Linked DNA regions of Homo sapiens: region 1 is linked to region 2. The links come from fine-mapping of genetic effects on gene expression. A gene starts in region 2. The other region holds a variant in brackets. All regions are shown on one strand. Distances are from middle to middle. Region 1 has its middle 20 kb from the start of NHIP. Region 2 holds the start of NHIP (neuronal hypoxia inducible, placenta associated).

Evidence for each region. PIP is the estimated chance that this variant, and not a neighbour inherited with it, causes the effect. A credible set is the group of variants that fine-mapping cannot tell apart.
Region 1: its variant is the best candidate, but not a certain one, in a credible set for the expression of NHIP in testis (GTEx, PIP 0.61).

The regions. Positions count from the first base shown.
Region 1 is chr22:49,030,865-49,033,771 of GRCh38, reverse strand. No RefSeq gene overlaps it. Among named protein-coding and RNA genes, the nearest start is that of NHIP, 20 kb to the left of the region's middle. The variant C/T (reference allele first, on the strand shown) is at 1,409.
Region 2 is chr22:49,050,991-49,053,897 of GRCh38, reverse strand. It overlaps NHIP (neuronal hypoxia inducible, placenta associated), which reads left to right and starts at 1,513. Exons shown (of 4, transcript NR_183584.1): 1 at 1,513-2,907. RefSeq lists an enhancer at 1,467-1,546.

The DNA of each region.
Region 1 (2,907 bases), 20 kb after region 2:
CATGTGCAGCCTCACGATGCCTGTGTAACGCGGAGGCAGGAAGCATCACTCCTGTCTTTAGGAGCAAAGGAAGGAGCTCAGGGTGGGCACACGACCCACCCAGCATCGCAGAGCCCATGAGTGTCCTCTGAGACTGAAGATTTCAAAACTGGCCACGATGTCTCTGGGTCGGTGGTGGGCTCCTGTCTGTGAGATCCAGCATCTTACACTTCACACCCCAAGTTTCAGGGGAGAAGGGCGGAAAGAGATGCCTCTCTTAGGGAAACCAGGGAGAGAGGGGTGAAGACGGCCACCATCACCAAGTGTACTGCGTGTCCACCTATCCACATACGTCGACTAATTACCCCCAACTAAATACGGATTATTGCGTCTGTTCCACAGAAGATAAAACTAAGGACCAAAGAGGCTCCCCAAAGTCCCACGGCCCCCCAGAGGGTGCGGGCCGGGTGGGAATTTAAACTGGTCTTTCTGTCTCCAGGGCTGGAGCCAGGCTCTGAAGCTGCCTTGCCCCCTCCAACCTTGTTCCTTTTGGGAGTTGGTCTCCCTCCAAGCACGCTGATCTCTCCCCTCCTTTCAGGAGGCCAGTCCTACCAGCCCCCCGCACACAGCGGACTCGGTGCTGCCAGACCGCAGCACACAGACTCCCCAGAAATGTCTTTCCCAGGCCCAGATACTTGATTTCACCACGTGGCCCTCAGCGGAGGCTGCGTTCCTGCTCAGCCTCTGCCTTTTGGCTGCAGGGCAGCCTGGCGAGCGTGGTCTCCACCAAGCACTTCCCTGTACCTCAGCAGCCGACAGTGGCATTTGGGGACCTTGTTTCTGGGGAGCCTGTGGCAATGCGTCTCTCCTGTCTCAGGGACACACCAGCCGTCTTCCTCTGAGGCCCCTGGGGCAGGTCACACCGCTCAGTGGGTCCGCCCGGCAATGGCAAGTCTGTGTCCTCTGCCGGCCCGGGGTGTCTGATGTCCGGGAGAGGACTTGGGAGAAGAGTCTTTTGTTAGCAAAAGGTCACAGGGACGCTCACCTTTGCAGTGCACCAAGAAGACAAAGGCTGTCCTCGGCATCCGGAGCATCCGTATAATTCATGCCCACAGCAGGGATTGAGCCTTCTGAAAAATGCAAACTCACGGCTCCAAACTGCTGGCTGAGGATCATGGGATGAGGAGGCAGGGAGAGTTTACTGAGATTCCGGGCATTTTCTAAACTCCCTGCTCTGCAGTGCTGTGGGGGGACGCAGGATTCTCCTGCTCTGCTGGCAGGGGTGGCCCAGCTGTGCGTACCAGGAGCCCGGCAGCCTGCTCCATCTGCCTGCTCACTTGCTACGGGGCGTCCCCGGCCTCCCTGCCCCTGCTAACACGCTGCTGGTGGTCCCAGCACCCTCCGGCCTGGACTCACTTCCCTCCATGCC[C/T]GGCTCTCCAGGGGGCTCCTACGCACCCTCCCTGGCTCAGGTCCAGGGCAGAGACCCCAGTGAAGTCTCCAAGGTGGCCCTGCTTTCCCTCCTCCTTCAGAACTGCTCCCACCCGCCTGCAGGCCCCAGGCATCTTCTCCCATGGAGGCTACTGCTCTGCTCCACACCCACCCCGGCTCCCATATGCAAGCCCAGGGAAGCATCTGCCTAGGGATCAAGCTGAATCCACTGCCTATGTGTGGCATGGAGGCCCATGTGCCCACCCCTCTGATGGGCACTGCCAAGGGGTCCATGGAGAAGAGGCAGAGTCCCTGTCCAGGGCCCTAAGCCTTCATTGAGGGAAGAGGCCCCCGAGGCATCAGGCATCAAGGCAGCAGGCAGACCTACCCCCTCGGATGGCTGCATGGACACCAGGGCAGGGGGTGACTGGGGCCTCGAGGGCTGGAGCAGGGAAGGCTTCATGGAGGAGGGGGTATTTGGATACACCTTGGTGAATGGGGAAGAGTTGATGGGGAGAAAGGTAGAGGGAAGACAGGGAGGAAGGAAAAGTGGAGGGCATGACGGTGGGAAGGGCTGGGCATCCATGCTGACAGCTGGAGGGGGAAGGAGAAACATGGCTTTAGAATTGGGTGAGGGGCACCCTGACCCCACTCATCCCCCAGATGGCCACCCCTCTGGGGCTTCTGAGTCCAAGGGAATGTGTCTGTTTAATATTAATAGACATTTTCCATTTATTTCCAAAGAAAGGCTGCAAATCTAATTGTCACCATCAATGTCAGGAGCTCTTGTTGCCTTGTATTTCCCCTGACAATTATTTTAAGCATTGCCAATCAAATATGTGAAAGACAGCAAGTCAATCAGACACATAATTATTCATAAAAATGAGTTTGAACTTCTATCAACAGTTCCTCTTCTTTAAATTGCCTATTTACACCCCTCATTAATTTTGCATTTTGCTGTTAGAACGTGTCCTGTTTGTTTCTGTGCATGCCTTGCCTATGGTGGACATTTGACTTTGGGGTTTCTGAACTTGCTCCCGGGCCCTTCCTTCAGCAAGAGCCAGACCAGCCTCACTTTCAACACCTGTGAAGTTGTGGGGTGCTCGGACCTTGATTGCCTGTCTACCGCCTGTGATGACTGTATTCCCTGGGGTGTGTGTGACATTCATACACACCCATGTGCACACACATACATGTATGTGCACACACCAAAGGCATTGAATGCCTTGATGTCTAGGATGTGAATTTCAGAGAGCCTGGGCCAGCATTTCCGGGAAGGGTTGGCATCTGTGAAGATCACAGTTACAAACACACTTGAGAGGTCTCTTCTCAGCTGGCTTCTGAATTTTCATCTTCTCATGCTTTTAGTAACGGCACAGAGTAAGCATATTACACTAGCAAAGTGTGACTCTTAGGATGACTGGATATAAAACGACCAAAAAGAAACCATTTTTTTTTCTACACTAGCAGCAAACAGTTAGACATGGAACTGGATAATAA
Region 2 (2,907 bases):
ATTTTTTACAAACAAAAATAAAAATATATTTGGCTTTGTGGGATAGTCTCTGTTGCATCTCCTCTTCTCTGCTGGATTGGTCAGAAAGCGAACACAGGCAGTATGAAAATGAAGAGGTGTGGCTCTGTTCCCGTAAGCTACGGTTAGCAGAAATCCCTCATTTACATGAAAATGTGTCACCTTTAACATATGTAGGAAGTAAGAAAAACTTTAAAATAAAGCTTGACTTAAAACATCAGAGAATAACAGAATAAACCTAAAGAAGCTAATGAATAGAAAATCTATAATTATGTCCTTAAATTCATAAAAACAGACACCAAGAAATAACAGAGAGGACCACTGTCTTATTCTGTTTTCTGCTGCTGTAATGAAATGCCACCGGCTGGGTAATTTATAAAGAAATGAGATTTATTTCATTCGCAGTTCTGGAGACTACAAAGTCCAGGACAATGGTGCTGGCATCTGGCAAAGGTCATCCCATGGGAGAAGGATGGAGGGCAGGAGCCAGGGCCTGAGTCCGAGCAGGAGAGGCCAGGCTCACTTTAGAAACCCCACTCTTGAGGTAACAAACCCACTCTCTCGATAATGACATTAATCTGTTTATGAGGGTGGAAGCCTGATATGGTTTGGCCGTGTCCTCACCCAAATCTCATCTTGAATTGTAGCTCCCATAATCCCCATGTGTCATGGGAGGGAGCCAGTGGGAGGTAACTAAATCATGGGGGTGGTTTTCCCCCAGGCTATTCTGACAGTACTTTCTCACGAGATCTGATGGTGGTTTTTTTTTTTTTTTTTTTTTTTTTGAGATGGAGTCTCGCTCTGTTGCCCAGGCTGGAGTGCAGTGGCACGATCTCGGCTCACTGCAACCTCTGCCTTCTGGGTTCAAGCGATTCTTCTGCCTCAGCCTCCTGCCTGGACTGGTATAGACACAAATGTGCTAACACTGAGTCTGAAAACACTTCCTTGGATCTTGGATCTAAACTCTCACTGCTTCTCTTCTGATTATAAACCATTTCACAGCCCCCGGCAGTTCAGAAGGCCCTGAGCCCAGGCGGGAACTCAGACTGAATTGCGATGTCATTCAGGCATTAAAAGCACGCATGGGCTCAGAGTGCTGCTTGCTTGACGTTTCCCGTCTGTGAAGCAATTTTATTTAAATTCTACGCAAAATAGAACCCTTTGCTCTTCTTCCCAGAGTCCTGCCCGGTGGGAAGTTCGCTGGAGGCGCAGCAGGGAGCAGCCTGGCTTTTCCTACGGGGTCATTAGAAGCCTCGCTGGGAGAATTTCCCAAATATTTTGCTGTTTGCTCAAACACACTTTTATATTTTGAATCCAGGCATTTGAGAGAGAAATCTGTAGCGTCTGAAGCATGGGTCTGTGGTTCTCAGCGGAACACACGGTCCCAAAAGGCCCTTCCCAAGATGGCCGGGGCTTCCGCCTGCCGCCCTCCCTCCCGTGGTGCTGAGCGCAGGCTGGGCGCGGCCACATCACCCTAAGGGCGTGGGTGTCGGAGTCTTGCAGGCTGGGGTCCCAGGTGAGAGATGCCAGCAGGGAGCTCTAGATGGGGAACTGGGTGAGCCTGGCTCGGTAAGGGCGTGCTCAGAACACCCCATCCCCGAACACGGTCTTGTGTGATAAAATGTCACGCAAGAAGAATCTGAAACCGCGAGAAGAGGAGGACACGGCCAGACTGCACCGAACCCCGGCACCTCTGTGGGGAAAAGCAGGTCAGGCTGAGCGGGGCCGGCGGGGACACGCGCTCCTGGGCTTCTCCAGAGTCTGCCGGGGCCGGGCCCGGGACCGAGGCTGGGACGCGCTGTGCAGTCCCACCCCTCACACCCCTCGCACGCCTGGAAACACCCTCGGGGTAACACAAGCCGGGGTTGAGTTTCTTGAAGAGAAGCTGGCTGCATCCTGGAGCCAGGGAAAGAGGAGCACAGGGGCCAAGCGGTCCAGGGCCACGGAGGAGCAGGACCCCTGGGGAAAGGCCCGGGTCTAGGCCGGGGCCAGGGGACCGTGGTGGAGACCTCAAAAATGGCAGAACACGGAAGCAGGGCGAGAAAAGTAAACGTAGTCCTTGCGGCAGTTTGAAATACACGCGGGTAAACGCTGGGTGACTCCGCCCGGATGCAGAGTGGGGGTCTGTGTCTCTCCCCACAGGCTGCAGGGACCGGGCTCTGGGTAACCAGCAGAAGGTAACAGAACGAGGCTGCTTTTCCTCCAGGCTGTTCTGGTGTCCGCGCGTGGCTTGTGCGCTGACTCCTGACTTGGAGCGCCGCGTGGCCAGAGAAATCTGGGTGCCTCCAGGCCACCATGGTGAGAGGAGAGGCCACCGCACGAACGGAAGAAGCGATGGAGACGGTCTTTACGACCTAAGAACAGAAAGAGTTTCTTATACACAATCCGAAAAGTAAAAATTGATTGATTGATTGATTGAGATGGAATCCCACTCTGTCGTCCAGGTTAGAGTGCAATGGCTTGATCTCGGCTCATTGCAACCTCCGCCTCCCGGGTTCAAGCGATTCTCCTGCCTCAGTCTCCCGAGTAGCTGGGATTATAGGCGCCCGCCACCACGACTGGCTAATTTTTATATTTTTAGTAGAGACGCAGTTTCACCGTGTTGACCAGGCTGGTCTTGAACCCCTGACCTCAGGTGATCCGCCTGCCTCGGTCTCCCAAAGTGCTGGGATTACAGGCGTGAGCCACCGTGCTGGGCCAAAAATCAATTTTAAAACGACCACATGAAAAATAAATCTCCTGTATCACAGAGCATGTTCTGAGGAAAATGAAAGCCACAGATCCAGAAGATATTTGTGACACATATGAAAAACAAAAACTCATATTCAAAACATACACAGCATTGCTATGAATCATTAAGAAAAATGATTTCGTCTCCTCTACAGGAGC